Homo sapiens: one gene and its partners. The protein of the gene in region 1 purifies or fractionates together with the protein of each later gene. This does not show direct contact. Each region holds a gene or a part of one and is shown in the gene's direction. Other genes may lie near its edges.

Region 1 (3,744 bases):
TTTCAACTGAGGAGCAAGTTCAGCTGAGCAGGAGGGTCCTCCCTACTGGGGGAGGCAGTGAGCCCTAGGAGTCCATGGTAGCAGGAAGCATGGATGACAGGCTATTTTTGGTTAGAAATTGAGTGTGGATGCTTCCAGAGTGGTGACCACAGACTTGTCCTTCAAGACCTCGCTCAAGGGCCTCCCCGGTCCACCAGACCTCCCAGGCTGAGGACTCTTCCTCCAGGGACATAGCCCTGAGCTGACGCCTCCTCCACCCTTTATCTCCCACTGGTCTGGGTTGCCATGACTTATCTCCTGCCGGGGCTTGTGAAGACTTGGAGGGCAAGGGCCCTGTGCTGGGTTCCTTTTGTGTCATTTTCTCCTCCTTCTCTAAATAGTGAACAAAATAAGGGCCAGGAAGACAACAGTTGCTCAAGACCAACTGATGAGGGATTCAAGCCAGCAAACACATGTGGACATCTGCTTTGGGTGGGCCAGACCCTGAGCTGGGCTGGGGGTGGGGTAGGGGAACATAGCTCCAAGAAAGAGAGAATCCCTGCCCTCTGGAAGCCGTGGCCATGGAAACAACTGCCCTGCTGAGTGATGGCTATGGGACGCCTGGGCTGAATGATTCTAGAAAGTTGGAAGGGATGCTATGGAGAACTGCCTAGGTTGTTCACTGCACAAAGTGCTGGCCAAGGGAGCAAGCAAGGCATAGAATCCAGCCTCGCCTCCACTCTCCAGATTCCATACCTTGCTGTGCGCTGTGCCCAGCGGGGAAAGAGCATTGTCTATTTGTGCCCTGGACGTGGAGGTCTTAGAGAATACGTCCCCCATCCTCCATCCTCCACCAACGTGGAGCCCCAGGAGGGCAGAACCTATGTCTGTACAGTTTCCTGCTGGGTCCCCAGCCCCTTGCATGCCCCATAGTCTATGCTCAGATGGAGTGGCTGAATGTATGAATGAGTAGAATGAATGAATAAAATGTATCCTCAAACGAAGATCTGACTAACTTGAGCCTGCGGCCTGAGTCAGTGGGCCTGGAGGGGTAGCACTGGGACCTCTGGTAGCACCTAGAAGGGGAAGTACCTCCCACCACGCTCCCAGTCCTCCCCTAGACAGGGAAGGTGGGAGCCATGGTACCTGGCGGGAGAGAAGACGGGTTCTGCTCTTACTGGTCCAGTCCCAGGCTGAAGTTGAGACGAATGATCAGGACTCAGAATGGGTGGGACAGAGGAACTGAGGGACAGGTAGACCAGTCGTCTGGGATTCAGGGAAGGTTTCACGGAGGATGTGGGACCAGACAGGTGTGTGTATGTGTGTGTGTCGGTGGGGGTGGGGTGGGGAATACTATCCAGAGGGCAGATGGTGAGTAAAGGCAGGGATGGGCAGAGCGTGTTAAGTGGCAGGAGGCTGAGTGAGGAGAGTTGGACCAGAAGTGGAAACTCCTTCGGGATAAAACTCAGAGAGTAGGACTCAGAAAACTTGTTTCGGGTTTGTCCCCTCCCCTTCCCAGCAGGCAGGATGTTGCACAGGGACAGGCACTAAGCAGACAGCCTAGGGAAGGAGGGCCGGGTGAGGAGGGGGGAGGGTGTCTGCTGGCCTTAAGTGACAATCTGTGTGAGAATCGAAGAGCTGAGAGCTCGGGAGCCATTGTAGGTTCTTGAGCAGGGGTGGCCCAAAGTGGGTGGTGCGGAGGGCGACTGGAGAGGAGGAGTCAGCTGGGGAGTCTGAGCGCGGCGCGGCCCGCGGGATGTTGGGGGCCGGGTTCCCTCCGAGCGCCGTGGTCTCCCTGTCCCGGCGCGGCGGGCCGGGTGGGGCCAGGCCTTGGGAGCGCGCGCCGGATCCCAGCGCCGGGCCGGCGGAGGGGCGGGGCCGGGCACGTGTCCTCGGGCCGCTCCCCCCTCCGCCACGTGACCCGCCCAGGGCAGGGTCGGGGCTGGGCTGGGGGCCGCGAGCCCAGGCGTCTGAGACCTACTGACCGGCCGCGGGCAGGGCTGACAGGCGGTGGGGCGGCTCGGCCCCTGGCGGAGTCGGCGGCGGGCGGGGACGCGGCGCTGGGAGGACGCGGCGGCGCTGGGAACGGACGCCTGGGCGCCCCGAGGCGCCGGGATGTGGAGCGGGTAGGTCCGCGCGCGCTCGCGGTCCCGCGCTGGGTCTGGGCCGCGGTCGCCTCCCGGGACGGGAGGATTTCGGGGGTCCCCGCCGGGTCTGCGCCGCCACCCGGAGGTGCTGTGCGCCCCCGCCCTGCCTGCAGGCGAGCCGACTTGCAGCCAGGAGACTCCGGGGGAGGGGTCGGGGGTGTCTCTCGGGGTGCAGGGTGCGAAGGGTGGGCAGCCGACCGTCCCGGGGTGACAGCGTCAACTCCTCTTAGCTCATCAGGAGCGCAAGTGAGAAGAGTTGGGGTGTGGGGAAGAGTGTGCACGACTCTGGGGCATGCACCTAGAGGAAGGACCCCCAGCCCACCCTCCCAACCTGTCCCTCAACCCCTTCGCTGGATGAACTCTTGGAAAGCAGTGTAGCTGGGAAAGAGGGGCTGGGTCTTTGCCAGGGTGGCTCCCAAGTTGAGGGCAGAACCTCCTTGTGGGGCTCTGGAAGTACGGAGGCTCTCAGAGGTGTGGAGTGGGAACCCCCCCCGCCCCGGCCCCGCAGCCTGGAGTGGGGTAGCAGAGACTCTGGGTCCTGGATTAGTGGCCCCAGTGGCTGTGTCTGTTCAGGCCACTGGTTCTCAGGGGCAGTTGCAGTTCCTGGCCCATCTGATGTGGGACCCCTGCCCTGTATGTGCAGAAAGGTTGTGGTGTTTTTGTGGAGTTGGGCAAACACTTCCTCTTCCCCGTGGCCGGGAAAGACCAGGTCGTGGAGGAAATGTGGCCAGAATGGGGGACAGGTTGTACTCCTGTGCCCCCTGGGCCAGATGAGTGGTCCCAGGAGAGGGCTACTGCCCAGCTACAGCTGGGGAGTGAGGGAAGCCCCCCGGAAAGGCAGGCAGGATCCACTTCACTCCATGGCACCTAGCAAAGGTTGAGCTGCGATGCTAGGGGAGGGATGGCCTTTCATCCCCAGCAGGGGGTGTGGAGAGAGTGGGCTCCTGTTAGGGGTGAGGTGTGGAGAGGCTTGGGACTTTTTTTTTTTTTGAGACGGAGTCTTGCTCTGTCACCCAGGCTGGAGTGCAGTGGCGAGATCTCAGCTCACTGCAACCTCCGCTGCCTGAGTACAAGCAATTCGCCTGACTCAGCCTCCTGAGTAGCTGCGACTACAGGCACACACCACCACACCCGGCTAATTTTTGTATTTTTAGTAGAGACGGGGTTTCACAATATTGATCAGGCTGGTCTCGAACTCCTGACCTCAGGTGATCCACCAGCCTCAGCCTCCCAAAGTGCTAGGATTACAGGCTTTTACCACCACGCCCTGCCCTAAGACTTGAGACTCTTTTTTTTTTTTTTTTGAGACAGAGTGTCACTCTGTCGCCCAGGCTGGAGTGCAGTGGCGCGGCTCAGTGCAAGCTCCACCTCCCAGGTTCACACCAGTCTCCTGCCTTAGCTTCCCGAGTAGCTGGGACTACAGGCGCCCGCCACCACGCCCAGCTAATTTTTTTGTGTTTTTAGTAGAGACAGGGTTTCACCATGTTAGCAAGGATGGTCTCGATCTCCTGACCTTGTGATCCGCCCGCCTCAGCCTCCCAAAGTGCTGGGATTACAGGTGTGAGCCACTGCACCCGGCCTGGGCTTGAGACTCTTAAAGGGAGAGAGTTGAAGGCCA
Region 2 (3,744 bases), on another chromosome or scaffold:
TCTTTTTTTTGAGACAGAGTCTCGCTCTGTCACCCAGGCTGGAGTGCAATGGCGCGATCTCGGCTCACTGCAACCTCTGCCTCCCAGGTTCAAGCAAGCGATTCTCCTGCCTCAGCCTCCTGAGTAGCTGGGATTACATGCGTGCACCACCACGCCCAGCTAATTTTTGTCTTTTTAGTAGAGATGGGGTTTCACCATGTTGGCCAGGCTAGTCTCGAACTCCTGACCTCAAGTGATCCACCCGCCTCGGCCTCCCAAAGTGTTGGGATTACAGGCGTGAGCCAGGGCGCCTGGCCACATTATCTACATTTCAAGTGCTCAACAGCCACAGGTGGCTGCTGGTGGCTACTGTATCAGACAGGACCAACTCAGGACATTGCTATCGTCACAGAAAATTATATTGGAGAGCCATGCTTTAGAGTTTAGAGGAACTATTCCTTGTCACCCATTCTTAACATCTTCAAAGCTTCCACAGAGTCCAGAGAACTTAGTTCTTTTTAGAGTGCCTCGGAAGCCACCCTCTGGGAAGGAGGTGAGATGCAGGGATGTCTGATGCCTGGTTACTCCAGACTGTGAGAAACAGCCCAGTCTCCAGTTCTCCTGATCTGGCCTCTTGGGTCACAGCCAGATGTGTGTGTACGGGAACCTACTTGCGCAGTTCTGGGCTGCTTTGGTGCTCTCGCTTCTCCCAGGGACCCCAGCTCTGGTTGCTGAAGGAGAAAACTCTCTGTCAGTGACGAGGAACCCCTGAGTCCTGGGCTTGCCAAATTGATCTCTACAGTTGGGGAGTCTCTTCTTTTACAGGCCTCTAATTTTCCTAGATGTCCTCCTTAATTATCTTATCCATGGACTTAGGCCTATCCCGTCCTGGAGACAGACCAAGGGCAGAAGGAATGTAAGAAGTCGTGGCCCAGGCCGGGTGCAGTGGCGCGTGCCTATAATCCCAACACTTTGGGAGGCCGAGGTGGGAGGATCACCTGAGGTCAGGAGTTCAAGACCAGCCTGGCCAACATGGTGAAACCCTGTCTCTACTAAAAATACAAAAAATTAGCCAGGTATGGTGGCAGGCGCCGTAATCCCAGCTTCTCGGGAGGCTGAGGCAGGAGAACTGCTTGAACCCGGGAGGTGGAGGTTGCAGTGAGCGGAGATTGCGCCACAGCACTCCAGTCTGGGCAACAGTGCGAGACTCAGTCTCAAAAACAAAACAAAACAAAACAAAAATTTGAGATCCCAAAGTGTTTTCCCTGCCACGACTCAGGTAGCAGTGAGCTGAGGTGGGCATCACTAACATGTATGTCTCTCCTATGAGTCAAACGTCCATTTCTGGGTCACCATCTGTGTGCTCCTGCCTAACACTACCACTTTTGGGATTCCAAGATGCACCCCCCCCACCCCACCCAGGCAGGGGTCCCTATCTCTCCCCAGGCCCTAGGGTGGAGTTTCGCTCTTATCACCCAGGCTGGAGTGCAATGGCACAATCTCAGCTCACTGCACCCTTTCCCTCCTAGGTTCAAGTGATTCTCCTGCCTCAGCCTCCTAAGTAGCTGGGATTACAGGCGTCTGCCACCACGCCCGGCTAATTTTTGTATTTTTAGTAGAGACAGGGTTTCGCAATGTTGGCCAGGCTGGCCTTGAACTCCTGACCTCAGGTGATTCACCCGCCTCAGTCTCCCAAAGTGCTGGGGTTACAGGCGGGAGCCACCGCGCCCGGCCCATCCCTCATTATTTTTTGCGACTCAGAGCCATCCTATTACCCCTCTCAAACCCCAAGGAATGTTTGAGTGGGGTTGATATGGGTGTGAAAAGACACAGAATAATCTGTCTCCAGAGGAACTACAACTTCCATCAGGCACTACTTCAGCGGAACAGGAAAGGATGTGGGGGCGTGGCTACCACGCCCTAGTAGAGCGGGAAACTACAACTCCCAGGATAACGCGGGATTTCAGCAGGGCCAAAAGAGTGATTGAGCTCTGACTGGCGACCCGACCCGGCGGAAACCACCTCGACAGCCTCCAGAAAGGGGCGTGGCTGAAAATGTAGGGGCGTGGCCACGTGGGCATCAGGAAGAAGTAACCTGTTGAATCTATTTCTGCTCCCCACCCTTACTGCTTCCCATAAGGGGGAAGCCGCAGACTAATAAGCCTCTTCCAAAAAAGAGGTAAAGGGAGGTAGACAAGGGGCGGCAGCGGAGGCTGGCTACTGCATTCCGTAGGAGGAGCCAACAGTTACTTTTTACCTGCTGAGTCCGGTGAACCAGTTCATGGGGGCGGGGACCTGCCTATGAGAAAAGGGCCAGGATAGAAGAGGTATTTATTTGTTCATTTTGAGGACTAAATTTAGAACCCATCATCTACAGACCCATTTGTAGGTTGTGTCTGGGGCACTCGCTCGGCCTCAGGAAGAGGGAAGAACGGGGACGACTTTGTGGCAGCAAAGCCACCTCCCTTCCGTGTTTTCCGCAGCCCAAAGCGATAGAACCGCATGGCTTCCGCAGTCTGGGGGAGTGCCCCCTGGTGGGGCCCGCCGCCCCCGGCCCCAGCTCGGCCGCTCACGGACATCGACTTCTGCTCCGGGGCGCAGCTGCAGGAATTGACCCAGCTGATCCAGGAGCTGGGTGTGCAGGAGAGCTGGAGTGACGGGCCCAAGCCGGGAGCCGATCTCCTCCGGGCCAAGGACTTTGTCTTCTCTTTGCTTGGTAAGTAACCCTACTTGCCTTTGGGAACTCACAGCTCTCAGCCTCACCACGCCCCCGCCCCCGCCCCGGCTTTGGGCGACGCCCTCACGATCCGTTCCCTTTTTTTAGGTCTAGTTCACCGCCGGGACCCTCGCTTTCCTCCCCAGGCAGAGCTCTTGCTGCTTCGTGGTGGGATTCGCGAGGGCTCCCTGGATCTGGGGCATGCACCCCTGGGTCCCTACGCCCGGGGACCTCACTACGATGCCGGCTTCACACTCCTAGTGCCCATGTTTTCACTGGACGGCACTGAACTGCAACTGGACCTGGAATCCTGTTACGCACAGGTCTGCCTCCCAGAGATGGTGTGCGGAACCCCCATCCGGGAGATGTGGCAGGATTGCTTAGGACCCCCAGTCCCAGGAGCACGTGATTCGATCCACCGAACGGAGAGCGAAGAAAGTTCCAAGGACTGGCAAAGCTCTGTAGACCAGCCGCACAGCTACGTCACTGAGCACGAGGCGCCGGTGTCTTTGGAAAAATCGCCTAGTGACGTTTCAGCGTCCGAGTCGCCTCAGCATGACGTCGTCGACCTTGGCTCTACCGCACCTTTGAAAACAATGAGTAGTGACGTCACCAAGGCAGCCGTCGAAAGCCCAGTCCCAAAGCCGTCGGAGGCTCGGGAAGCGTGGCCCACATTATGTTCCGCCCAGGTGGCTGCCTGGTTCTTTGCTACGCTGGCGGCGGTCGCCGAGTCTCTGATCCCTGTCCCGGGTGCTCCGCGTCTGGTGCACGCAGCTCGCCACGCGGGTTTCACCACCGTCCTCCTGGCTACCCCTGAGCCCCCTCGCCGCCTCCTGCTCTTCGACCTGATCCCAGTGGTGTCCGTGGCGGGCTGGCCCGAGGGGGCTCGGAGCCACTCGTGGGCCGGTCCGCTGGCCTCTGAGTCGGCTTCCTTCTACCTGGTGCCCGGTGGCGGCACCGAGCGGCCGTGCGCCTCCGCCTGGCAGCTCTGTTTTGCCCGCCAGGAGCTGGCGCTCAAAGCGCGCATACCAGCGCCGCTGCTGCAGGCG
Region 3 (3,744 bases), on another chromosome or scaffold:
CTCGAGGAGGAGCTGGAACTGAGCAATCAGGAGGTGTGGGTGTGGCCAAGACAGGGAATTTGAATCCAAGGGGAGGGGCTAAGGGGCTGCCCACGGGGCGGAGCCGGTTGGGTGGGTTCCAGAGAGAATCTATTGGGGCAGGACTAGGGCAGACAAGCTATGGGGTTGGACTATGGAGAGAAACCAGTGGGGTTCCTAAGTGGGCACGCATTGCGCAGGGCTACGGGGAGAATCTCCCAGTGAGAGTGAGATTAAGGGTAGAACCAGGGGCTGGGGCTCAGGCTGGGACTAAGGAGGAAGTGATTGAATGGGGAAAAGCGGGGCTAAAGCGGAAACTTTGTCCAGGAGGCTAAGGGGAAGAGTAAGGGTAGACGCCCTCCGTGGTGGCAGCTAAGGAGGGATATAAGGAGGGAGGGAGCCTAAGGGTAAACCGTGGGGTAGGCATGGCCCCAGCACGACCGGAGGCATCTCATATGGGGCCGCCTATCCCCTTAGAGGGCCAATGCCAGTGAGAACTAGAGCTGGGGGTTCAGGGAGCCCCTGTGCTCTGATTCCCCTTTCACACTTCCAGACTCTGAACCTTCGAGAACAGCTGTCTAGGCGGCGGTCAGGGCTGGAAGAGCCGGGCAAGGATGGGGATGGGCAGGTGAGACATGGAAGTCCCCTCTCCGTGAGCTCCATTCAACTCCCTGACTTTGTGATAGTGTTTGTAACGTTTGGTATCATCCTCACTGGCCCTAAGACGGCTGCACCTGTAAGAGTGTCACAGAGCTTGGACCTCTGATTCAGGTCACCTAGCGAACTTCTGTGACCTCCTTCACTGACCCCCGTGGACTCTGACCAGCATGATCCTTATTGATCTTTGATCTACTTTCAGCTGATTGACTTTCTCCTTGGATTTCCTCTGTGTCTCCGGAGACACTCTGGGATCTTGTCCCCTCCTTCCCTCACTCCAGACTCTTGCCAATGGCCTGGGTCCTGGCGGGGATTCCAACCGGCGCACAGCAGAGCTGGAGGAGGCCCTGGAGCGGCAGCGCGCCGAGGTGTGCCAGCTGCGGGAGCGCCTGGCGGTGCTGTGCCGTCAGATGAGCCAGCTGGAGGAGGAGTTGGGCACCGCGCACCGTGAGCTGGGCAAGGCAGAGGAAGCCAACTCCAAGCTGCAGCGCGACCTCAAGGAGGTGAGGCCCCCAGGGAGGCGGGCTGCCCTGGGTCCCTCGCCTTTCCGTAGAGCTCTCCCTCGCGCATTGCTCATGAATGGCGGAACCTCGATTCAGTCCACAGGCTGGGTGACTCCTCTTTGAGATTCAGTTTTCCCACCTGTGAAAGGAAATGTATGATTCTCATCAGAGGGTGAGCCTGTGGCGCAGAGTAGGCGCTCCATAACTGCTCGTAATTACTTTGTTACCTAACTTTGGGTTCTTCTCTGGTGCCTCTAAATGGATTTTTTTTTTCTTTTGTGAGGCAGAGTCTGGCTGTGTCGCCCAGGCTGGAGTGCAGTGGCGTGATCTTGGCTTACTGCCACCTCTGCCTCCCGGGTTCAAGAGATTCTCCTGCCTCAGCCTCCCAAGTAGCTAGAACTACAGGCACCTGCCACCATGCACCGCTAATTTTTTTTTTTTTTTTTGTATTTTTAGTAGAGATGGGGTTTCACTATGTTGGCCAGGCTAGTCTTGAACTCTTGATCCGCCCACCTCGGCCTCCCAAAGTGTTGGGATTACAGTAGTGAGCCACCGCACCCAGCCTCTTTTTTTTTTTTTTTTTTTTTGAGATGGAGTCTAGCTGTGTCGCCCAGGCTGGAGTGCAGTGTCGGGATCTTGGCTCACTGCAACCTCTGCCTCCCAGGTTCAAGCGATTCTCCTGCCTCAGCCTCCCTAGTAGCTGGGACTACAGGTGTGCACCACCACACCTGGCTAATTTTTTTTTTTTTTTTTTTTTGTATCTTCAGTAGAAATGGGGTTTCACTATATTGGCCAGGCTGGTCTCGAACTCCTGACCTCAAGTGATCAGCTCGCCTCGGCCCAAAGTGCTGGGATTACAGGTGTGAGCCACTGCGTCCAGCCTCTAAATGGAATGTTTTGTGGGTATTTCACCCCTTTCTGGCTTAGGCCGCTTTATCCTAATCCCAGTGACCCCAGGGAGCTGCTGGGAAATGTGGACCTGGATTCTTGAAGGCAGTGGATGAGAAAGAAGAGTGAGCACTAGGACTAGCCTGGGCAACATAGCGAGACCCCGTCACTACTTAAAAAAAAAATTAGCCGGGCGTGGTGGTGGGTGCCTTTAGTCCCAGCCACTAGAGAGGCTGAGGCATGCCAGGTGCGGTGGTTCACGCCTGTAATCCCAGCACTTTGGGAGGCCGAGGCGGGCGGATCACGAGGTCAGGAGATCAAGACCATCCTGGCTAACTCAGTGAAACCCCGTCTCCACTAAAAATACAAAAAATTAGCCGGGCGTGATGTCGGGCGCCCGTAGTCCCAGCTACTCGGGAGGCTGAGGCAGGAGAATGGCGTGAACCCGGGAGGCAGAGCTTGCAGTGAGCCGAGATAGTGCCACTGCACTCCAGCCCGGGCAACAGAGCGAGACTCCGTCTCAAAAAAAAAAAAAAAAAAAAAGTTGAGGCATAAGAATCACTTGAGCTTGGGAGGTGGAAGTTGCAGTAAGCCGAGATCCGTACCACTGCACTCCAGCCAGAGTGCTGGTTGCTCATGCCTGTAATCCCAGCACTTTGGGAGACCAAGGCAGGCACATCACCTGAGGTCAGGAGTTCAAGACTAGCCTGGCCAACATCGTGAAACCCCCGTCTCTACTGAAAATACAAAAATTAGCCAGGCATGGCAGCGGGTGCCTGTAATCCCAGCTACTTGAGAGGTTGAGGCAGGAGAATCGTTTGAACCCAGGAGGTGGAGGTTGCAGTGAGCCGAGATCGCACCACTGCACTCTAGCCTGGGTGACGGAGCAAGACTCTCTCTCTCAAAAAAAAAAAAAAAAAAAAAAAAAAAAAAGAAAGAGAGAGAGAGAACCTTCATCTGGGATTTTAAGCCTGGATAGCCGCAGGGGCTATTGGGAAATGTAGCCCCACCACGTGGGCTACCAGATGAGGGTCCATCTCCCATAAGAAGTTGAAGCACTTCTTTTGGGGTTCTAGGCCTCTGGTACCCTGGTAGCTCTTGAGAGGTGTTGCCTTCTAGGTAGAAGGGATCCTTATTTCCCATGAGACCCCAGGACACTTGCTGTTTGATTCTAAGTCTGCTCTATGCCAGAAATTAGTGAGAAATCCAAGGCCTGGGTTTTGAGGAGAGGGCTGGAGTGGAGACTTCACATCCCACAGGCCTCAGATCCTCTGAACCTGGAGGATCTGAGCCTGCAGTGTCCTAGAAGCTCATGGGAGGTGTAGCATCACCATTTTAACTCGCAGGTAGGTGGCAGGGACTTAAGATGGGCTAGTCCTGGGAGCTCTTAGCGGGTGTGACACCACCATTCTGACTCCCATGTCAGGGCACTTTGTTTCCCAGGGAACAAGGGGGTTCCCCGTCCTCTCCCCCAGGGGCTCGCAGTCCACGGGGCCCTTTGCTACCTCCGCAGGCGCTGGCGCAGCGGGAAGATATGGAGGAGCGGATTACAACACTGGAGAAGCGCTACCTGAGCGCCCAGCGGGAGGCCACGTCTCTGCACGACGCCAACGACAAACTGGAGAACGAGTTAGCTAGCAAGGAGTCGTTGTATCGGCAGGTGGGGGCGCGGCCGGGA

What was found.
Region 2: the proteins of RAB3IL1 (region 1) and TMEM102 purify together in Homo sapiens (affinity purification with mass spectrometry; 4 studies listed by BioGRID and IntAct, with this or other methods). This does not show direct contact.
Region 3: the proteins of RAB3IL1 (region 1) and PPFIA3 purify together in Homo sapiens (affinity purification with mass spectrometry; 3 studies listed by BioGRID and IntAct, with this or other methods). This does not show direct contact.

What each region holds. Positions count from the first base shown.
Region 1 is NC_000011.10:61,915,718-61,919,461, reverse strand, and holds the start of RAB3IL1 (guanine nucleotide exchange factor for Rab-3A), read left to right. Parts: upstream 1-1,895; 5' UTR 1,896-2,094; coding exon 2,095-2,105; intron 2,106-3,744. UniProt on the Homo sapiens protein: Guanine nucleotide exchange factor (GEF) which may activate RAB3A, a GTPase that regulates synaptic vesicle exocytosis. Promotes the exchange of GDP to GTP, converting inactive GDP-bound Rab proteins into their active GTP-bound form.
Region 2 is NC_000017.11:7,433,391-7,437,134, forward strand, and holds the start of TMEM102 (transmembrane protein 102), read left to right. Parts: upstream 1-2,044; 5' UTR 2,045-2,306; exon of another isoform or gene 2,307-2,462; 5' UTR 2,463-2,481; coding exon 2,482-2,695; intron 2,696-2,803; coding exon 2,804-3,744.
Region 3 is NC_000019.10:49,129,422-49,133,165, forward strand, and holds part of PPFIA3 (liprin-alpha-3), read left to right. Parts: coding exon 1-33; intron 34-571; coding exon 572-646; intron 647-956; coding exon 957-1,178; intron 1,179-3,579; coding exon 3,580-3,726; intron 3,727-3,744. UniProt on the Homo sapiens protein: May regulate the disassembly of focal adhesions. May localize receptor-like tyrosine phosphatases type 2A at specific sites on the plasma membrane, possibly regulating their interaction with the extracellular environment and their association with substrates.